2 separate regions of the Homo sapiens genome follow, and region 1 is linked to region 2. Evidence: fine-mapped expression QTL. A gene starts in region 2. The other region holds a variant in brackets. All regions are shown on one strand. Distances are between the middles of the regions.

What was found. PIP is the estimated chance that this variant, and not a neighbour inherited with it, causes the effect. A credible set is the group of variants that fine-mapping cannot tell apart.
Region 1: its variant is the best candidate, but not a certain one, in a credible set for the expression of RNF38 in whole blood (TOPMed, PIP 0.74).

Annotation. Positions count from the first base shown.
Region 1 is chr9:36,316,992-36,321,383 of GRCh38, forward strand. LOC102724322 (a long non-coding RNA gene) reads left to right here. Exons shown (of 5, transcript XR_001746660.2): 5 at 806-1,474. Among named protein-coding and RNA genes, the nearest start is that of GNE, 61 kb to the left of the region's middle. The variant G/C (reference allele first, on the strand shown) is at 2,061.
Region 2 is chr9:36,397,925-36,402,316 of GRCh38, forward strand. It overlaps RNF38 (ring finger protein 38), which reads right to left and starts at 2,345. Exons shown (of 12, transcript NM_022781.5): 1 at 2,173-2,345. The coding sequence starts at 2,184. LOC124902152 (a long non-coding RNA gene) reads right to left here. Exons shown (of 2, transcript XR_007061475.1): 1 at 3,970-4,392; 2 at 3,541-3,661. RefSeq lists an enhancer at 2,305-2,374 and silencers at 2,585-2,914, 2,945-3,404.

The sequences.
Region 1 (4,392 bases), 81 kb before region 2:
AACAAAAGGCCATGGCTAATACTCCCACTCCGGCCCCAGCACCCAGGCACAGGGAATCTGAGCCCCCTCCACCCACATCTGCGAGCCCCTGACAGACTCAGCAGATGTCAGCTTTTTTGAAGAGACGGTGTCTCTCTCTGTTGCCCAGGCTGGAGTGCAGTGGTGCAATCACAGCTCAATGCAGCCTGGAACTCGGCTTTGCAAGTGATCCTCCCACCTCAGCCTCCTGAGTAGCTGGGACTACAGGCATGCACCACCACGCAGAGCTCCGGTTTTTTGTTTTTTTTTTTTTGAGATGGAGTTTCCCTCTTGTTGCCCAGGCTGGGGTGCAATGGTGCCATCTCGGCTAACTGCAACCTCTGCTTTCCGGGTTCAAGCAATTCTCCTGCCTCAGCCTGAGTAGCTGGGATTACACGCATGTGCCACCATGGCCAGCTTATTTTGTATTTTTAGTAGAGATGGGGTTTCTCCATGTTGGTCAGGCTGGTCTCGAACTCCTGACCTCAGGTGATCCACCCACCTGGGCCTCCCAAAGTGCTGGGATTACAGGCGTGAGCTACTGCGCCTGGCCTCGCAGAGCTAATTTTTTACAGAGGCTGGGATCTCACTGTGTTGCCTAGGCTGGTCTCAAACTCCTGGCCTCAAGCGATCCTTTGGCCTATAATCCCAAAGTGCTAGGATGACAGGCGTGAGCCACCGTGTCCGGCCTCTGTCTGCCATCTAACTCGCAGCCTGCTTCTATCATGTGCTGGAGAGCTGCCCTGCCTGCTGAAGAAAGCTGAGACCCCAAACGTCTTTTCCTCAGGAAGGTGAAGGTGAACTTGGTGGCCTTTACCTGATGACTCTGCTGATATTTGATCCCTGAGGGAATGAGCCACGGTTCAGCACCCAACCCCCACTTGAACTCTGCAGTTTCCCAGTTTCATTAAGAAGCCCATTGTTGAGTCTGGCCATGCGTCAAGGACACGTGGACTCTTGGGGCAACCCCGTTTCTCCAGCATCCTCCCAGGTGATGGGTTGGTGTGGCCAGGAGCCAACAGGAAGGGTGTGGGCCAGAGGGGAGAGGCTTCCTAGCAGCTGGCTGCCCTGGAGCTCCGGGAAGGTTTGACCATCAGGTTTACTGCACCAGGAATATATCCTTCAGTTTCCCCCAGCCAATCTGTAGAATAAGGAGAAATGGAGAGTGTAGGAAGATAACTGCAGTGTGGACACAGCCTCAGGTTTCTTCTTCGGTAAAGCTGATGTTTATTACACAGGGGCATAGTAAGTGAAGCATGCACTTCATTTTTCATTTTTCCTAGAATCCAGTGCTGCTAAAAAAAAAAAAAAAAAGGACAACTGTTTACTCACTGAAGAGCAAATATATACGTTGTTGGATGAGGAAGAAAAAGTTCCGTTGGGACGGGGCGTGGTGGTTCACACCTGTAATCCCAGCACTGTGGGAGGCTGAGACAGGAGGATTGCTTGAGCCCAAAAGTTCGAGTCCAGACTGGGCAAGATGGCGAAACCCCGTCCCTCCAAAAAATACAAATATTAGCTGGGCGTGGTGGTGTGCACCTAGTCCCAGCTACTTGAGAGGCTGAGGTGGGAGGATCGTTTGAGCCTGGGAGGCAGAGGTTACAGGGAGCAGGAGGTTACAGTGAGATGAGATTGCGTCACTGCACTCCAGCCTGGGCGACAGCAAGACCCCGTCTCAGAAAAAAGAAAAAGTTCCATTGCTCCCCACCACCCAAATGAATGCCACCTAAAACAGCTCCTGAATGGCTGGGGGCCAGAGTGGCGGGTTTTGGGAGAAACAAACCACAGCTGCCAGTTATGAGGCACCAGCTGCACCACATCGTTTCATTAGATCCCCCGCGATGCCATGAGGCAGGAGCTCTTCAACTCACTTTCCACATGAGGAAAATAAGGTTTCGGGAAGTTAAGAAACTTGTTTCTGCCACACACATCTTACCTTCTGATTTGATTTTGTGAGAAAAGCCTGGTTTGTTTGTTTGTTTGTTTGTTTTTGCCTGAGCATGGTGCACATTTCAATCTGGAATGAAGGAGTATAGTGAGGG[G/C]GAGGTGCGGCGCACCTCAGCTGTGCAGGTGTGTGGTGTTACTTAAAGCACACCATAGCGGCTACTGGGAAGCCTGGGTCCCAGCCCTGTTGCTAAGCTGCTGCTTGACCTGGAGTAGCTCCCTTTTCCCAGCGTGCCTCAGTTTCCTCATGGGAAAGCTCACTACCAGCTGAAGGTGAGTGGACTGGGGATGGAGAGGAGGGGACAGAGCTGGGGTGCAGGCCGGCAGACGGGTGGAGTGTGGGAGAGGCTGAGATGGGGAGAGTCCGGGGAGCAATGGGGTTCCAAGGAGGGGGCTGAGTCCTGGCCTGGGGAAGTCAGGTTCAAGGCGCTGGCGTCCCAGCTGATCCCTGGACCTGAACAGGGACCTGTTCCCTGTCCTGCTTGGAAGTCCCATCCTGGGTGTGGGCAGCCAGAGAAAGGAAGCGTTCTCCCAGTGCTGCCATGGGCTGCAGCCCTACCCTGCTGGGCTGAGTTCTGTGTTTAATGGAGGGAGGAGGAGGAGAGGGGTGAAGAGCTGGGCCTTCTGGTAGCTTTTTATAATTATTTCTAAAATGCTATATTTGGATATTATTTTCTGCTTCTACAAATAAAACATGCATATTGTAAAAAAATTCAAACATAACAAAAATCTGAAATTGCTGGAAATGCTTTCCCAGGGCTGCTCCCTAGAACAAACTATTAATTATTAGGTGCTCATTGTACATGCTTTTTTACTCCTTTATTTTCCTTTTTTTTTGGTAACATATGAACATGTTTATGTTGGACAATATAGAAGTATTTGAATCCAAATATCAGAGTTCCTCTTCCACTCCTTTCAACCTCCTGGTATGGCAGGCCAGGCCTCAGGAACGCGGGCCTCCGTAACAACTATTTCAGTACTGACTGGTGAAGTTAAATATTAAAAGCTGGTAGAGCCAGTGTCCTTACACAAAAGCTGGAATGTAACAAAACCCCACCCAGAGTTTCGCCTAGGCCTTTCCTGGGCCTTAAAGCATGACAAAATAACGAAGGCATTCTTAACAAAACCTGTTTAGGATTAAACAAACAAGTTTTATTGGGGGGTCTGAAGAAACTCCCCAGGCCTCCACGAACAAGTTTATTGGAGGTTGGAAGGAACTCCCCAAACCTCTGTGATTTAGTAGGAGACAAGATAAGGGTAATCACTGCAGCACCTGGACCCATTTAGATTAAGTCAATTTACTGAGGCTCCAGAGGAAGGTCTTCAGGACTCAGACCTTAGTTATAGATTAGAAGTTAATCACTTATGTCTTTAGATAAATGCACACTTACACGTACACATAGAGCTTAGAAGGTATATAAGCTCTGGAATACTTTGAAATTTTGAGTTGGTCTGGCGATAATTTCCAGGCCTTCTCCCTGCACCTGGTTACAGAAATAGAAATTCTCTTCTTTCCCAGTTTATCTGCATCTTGATATGGGGCCACGAGAATAAGCAGCTCGTCCCTCGGTGTGGTCCGGGAGCACTGGCACTAAGCACTGGGCAGTGGGAGGGCAGCTTCTGGGCAGTGCCCCCCAGCCTGCTCCCTCCTGCCACTCCACCTCCCAGGCAGGTCCTCCCACCTCCCCAGGGGTGTGGTGGGGAGGGCTGGGGAGGCCTCAGCACTCCACTGACTCATCAACCCTTCTGTCCTTTGATGGGTAGGATGGGGTGAACGCTAATGCCAGCAGACCTGGTTTCATAATATCTTAGTGTGTTCTGCATGTGTGATCCAGCCCCTCCCTTGGGATGCAGGGGAACTATGCATCTTTTATGTATTCTCAGACTTTGAGGTCTCAGCTGAATTGGAGACAGAAATAATCCCATCTTAATGTCCAGTCACATAACTATATCATCACTTATTTAACTGGCTTTCACTGATGGACATTAGGTTGTTGTGTGAGTGTGCATGCAATACACATCACACCCATGTGTGAGCTCCTGTGCTAGTATTAATATTATAAACAATGCCTCTCATCATGCCACCTGACTTCAAACTATACTATAGAGCAGCAGTAACCAAAACAGCATGGTACTGGTACAAAAACTGACACATAGACCAATGGCACAGGATAGCCTAGAAATAAGGCCACGCACCTACAACCATCTGATCTTTGACAAACCTGACAAAAACAAGCAATGGGGAAAGGACTCCCTGTTCAAAGTGGTGCTGGGATAACTGGCTAGCCATATGCACAAGATTGAAACCAGACCCCTTCCTTATATCATATACAAAAATTAACTCAAGATGGATTAAAAACTTAAACATAAAACCCAAAACTATAAAAACCCTGGAACACAACCTAGGCAATACCATTCCAGACATAGAAA
Region 2 (4,392 bases):
TCCAAACCAATAAAAAATTTTATACACTCTCTCCCTCTCCCTCTCTCCAAACACACACACGGCGCACACACATATAATTACTTACACAATAATTGTGGGTTTTACAATAGTTGGAAAAAAGAGGTATGATTGAGTTATAATTTTATTAAATAACAATCATAATTCAAATAATTATTGCTTGCCTGCCATATGCTGGATGCTGTGACTACAAAATGGGAAAAAGAAACAGTCCTTACCCTTAAAGCAACTCAGTCTAGTGAGGGACAATTAATAACAGGAACTACAAGAAGATAATAGGGCTCCATAACCTAGATAGAAGAGGTGAAAAGTTCAGATCCTTAACAAAGGGAAAGATCTAAGGCAGGCAGGCTCCATGGCAAACACCTGTAGTCCTAGTTACTCAGGAGGCCAAGAAAGGAGGATCACCTGGGCCCAGAAGTTCGAGTCCAGAAGGGACAACATAGCAAAACCCGTTTCTGGAAAAACTAAAATTAAAAAAAAATTTTTTTAATGAAAGATGTAAGAGTTGGGAAGAGACTGTGTACATGACCCCTCTTCTTCATCTGTTTATTCTAAATTTCTCTCATTAATTTACTATATAGAGTTCAAGTATTAATGCTTTATCTCCTCTAGATAACGTCGTATTAATTAACGTTTGCTGATGAACTAGACAAGAACTATACTGTTCAAATCCATGTTTACAATCTGTTCGCTCTTTCCAGAGAAAAGGCTGTGAGTTAAGTAGAGTAAAATGGAAGTGAAAACTGTCTGACATGTTTTCTTAGCAGGAAAACCAAAACAAACACAACGCAACAATCAAGACTAATTAAGAACTACCTTTCCAGCAAGATGAATTACAAAATGGTGGTGGCCTAAACCAAACTAGAGGTAGTACAGAGAAATAGGTGGAATAAACTAGAAGACATAATCTTGACCAATAATCTTTCCATACTGAGCAAGTACCTAATCATTTCAGAAACTTTTATCATAAGAATTTCTCACCCACACTTTCCACTCACAGCCTCAAAAAAAGAAAGTGAGCACAAACAGAAACAGCCTAGGAATGTAACATGAATTAAAAGCCTCATCCAATGCTGTTGGCAGAGAGACAACAGATCTACACTCTACATTATGATGCTAACAGTCAGTTATGTCTGACTATGCCATCTTGTTTACTCTTCATCAAAAATTAGGTTATTTTAGTAGAGAAAATTCTCCTCAATATTCACCCAGAGTAATACTTGACAATTTAACTATAAAAACAAGATGGGCATATAAAGCCCAACAAGTATGGAAATACGAACTACCTTCTAGAATCACAGACGAAGTCAGAGGTGGAAAACCCACAGATTATTTAAGTCCAACTTTTTTTATATTTTACAGATGAGAGCCTGAGGCCCACATGACGAGTCTGTGGCAGAACTTATTCAACTATAGGCGCTAAGGCCTTCAAATCTCTTAGAAATAAGTCTTACAGAAATATCATAAAAATCAACTTAAAATTGAATGAACAATGTATGATTAGCAGGTTTGCAAAAGGTGAAATATACCATATTATAAATATATATAATATATTATATAATACCATATTATAAATAAATATATTATAAATATATATTTATAAACCCCAGAGAAAGGAGTATCTGAAGTGACACAATTCCCAGGTAAACTTCCAGTCAGAAATTTCATCTTTTTATTCCAAGTGTGTCCCAGCTTCCCACACCTGATCTGACATCTATATGTATGTGGTTTCGTATTATCTCTACAAAAGTTCTATTTCTTCCATTAGACGGTGTTCCCTGAAGATAGGAACAATTTTACTTCGATTCCAACTGTCCCTATAAAAGGGAATTTTTTTTAAAGCCTACATACAAGGTTTGTTTGCTATTGAAAAAAATTTACGGTAAATTTTCAAGTATAACAACACTCGCAATCAAGGCCAAACAGAATACAGCAGACTTGCAACTCTAAGGTAACAACTGTATTATGAGCTTTGTATACATTTAAGTTTTCATACGTTAAGTCCACCGCTTAAGAAAAAAGAAATGGCAATTCATATAATGGTGGCAATAATTACATGTGTGTGTTTCTACTTACGGTAGAATTAGCATACCCAACTTTTACTGAATAATAGCATATATCATTTTTGCAACACAAAGAAAAATACTTTACCTTACAAGCCATACAGACGTAAACAAAAACTTTATTTCTTTTTGGACCTCAATAACCTGAAACACTCCCGTTTCAAAAACCAACCTCTCTCACGCTTCAACCCTGAAAGGAAGAACTTGCATCCCCTGAGAACAAAACGCAGCCTATCCAGAAACCCACGGAAGCAGAAGGACGCCAGAGAGGACCCTTTCGACCGGGTTCCGCGTTCTCCTGGGTGACATCATTTCACCTGCGTCTCGGCAAAAAGGGAGGGAGCGAGAGAGCGAGGCCATCTGCCGGGCAGCGGGCCGGCGGCTCCGCGAGCTGAGACCGCGCCTCCTCGCCACCGCGGGAACAAAGAGCGCCGGGCGGCCGAGGCAAACCTTAGCCCAAGACTCGGGCGCGGCCCCGCAGGCTCTCAACGGCCCGCAGCCCGTCCCGCCCTCGCGCTGCAGCCAACGGCCGCGGCGGCCAGTACCTGCGAGGGGAGGCTCCGCCCTGCCGGGCAGCTCCCGCGGATCCTCGCTGGGCCGCCGCCTCCTATTGTGACTGCTCGCCCAGCCCGCGGCCAGCTCGCCAGATCCGCCGTCCGCGGGCCTCCTCACCCCCGGAACCCCGGCTCCAACTTAGGCACTGTCACTGCGCTTCCTTCCTCCCGGCACCATCACACGGGCCGCGCCAGGAAACGACGGCTGCACGCCCAGAGATGACAGAGTCGCCTAACGCCTCGGAGGCTCCATCCTCTCCGCCCCCACGCCCCAACCGACCGGGCCTCGGCCCCGTCCCGCAACACCGCACTAGGGGCCCGGCCCGGCCACGCCCCTCCCCGCCCCGCCGCGCCCCGCCGCACCCCGCCTCACCCCGCCTCGGCGATCACAGACCCGGGCTCCCTATGCGCCGGCGCACTGGCCTCCGCTGCGCGCGCAGGCGACTCCCCTCGCCGCTAGGCCGCGACACGCGCGGTCCTCCCACTTCTTGGGTCCGGGTCGCCCGTCCCACCCCGTCCCCTCGCCAGCACAAACCTAGCGAGCCCAGCGCGCCAGACCACCGGAGCGCTCCTCCCTTTTCCCCCAGGCTCCGCACCGCGCGCCGAACCCCCTTTGTTTCCACCCCGAGGGGGAAGGGGGCGGGGCGGGGCGGGGCGGGGCTGCGCGCGGCCCGGCGCACGACTCGGACCAGTTCCGGCAACAGAGCTCCGCGCGCAGCACCACTGCGCAGCCCCGCCCCAGCCCGCCCCCCGCTGCCCTGCGGACCGCAGGGCCCTGTTCCAATTCCTATAGATTTTCTCTTAGTAAATTGTTGCTACTGTTCCGTGCCTCCTACCTACAAAACTCCGCAATCAAACAGTAACTGACCTCACGTAGTTCTTACAGCATAAATGCATTCACGTGGCCCGAAAAGTAAGAATTTTTATTGCAGTACACAAAGGTGTCTCTCAATGCAGCAAGCCAACAGGTTCGAACCCAACTTGTCCGAGGCTTCCTTAAGTGTGACAGTTGCTCAGATGTCGCTTGGGGAGGGGAAATAAGAACAAAGATTGAAGCCGGCTTGGCTCCTGTCCTGATAATCACGATACAAGAGAGAAAATAAAAATTTCCACAAAAGCACAATCCATACAAGGAAAAAATAGTAAAGTGGTATCAGACTTAAGGAGAGAGGGCAGTCAAGAGGACATCATGGAAGGGGTGGACTTTTTAAAGCAGAAATTAGATGTTTCCCGCAAGGATGGTGATCATATTTTAGGGTGGTAGAGTAAAATTATTAAGGACCAGTCAACAGAAAACTCGGGTTTTCAAGTTCTAGTTCTTTTGGCATTACTTAAACCAGTCTCTCTTTCCCTCTCTGGGCCTCAGCTGCAACCAGTAGAAAATGGGGGAAATCAGAGTAAATGTTGTTTCAGGACCTTCTGGACCTTGGACATTCTCTTTATGAACAACACTATATGGTAATTATTTATGTACACTTGTCTCCCATATCAGACTGAGCACCCAGACTCTGTTGGGACTGTGTAAACTAAACCCAAGGCCCAAGTCTAGTGCCAGAAACACAAGAGAAGGTGTTTAGCAACTGCTGAATCAAAGTTCCAGCAATAACATCATAGGTTTTGGAATTCCAGGACAAACAAAGAGAAGCTGGAAAGAGGTATTAGGTCCCTATGAACATATCCACCCCAAACCCATACTCGAATTATGTAACCCAGTTAACCAGCTGGCTGGCTCTCTCCCAAAGCAGCCAGTTTGG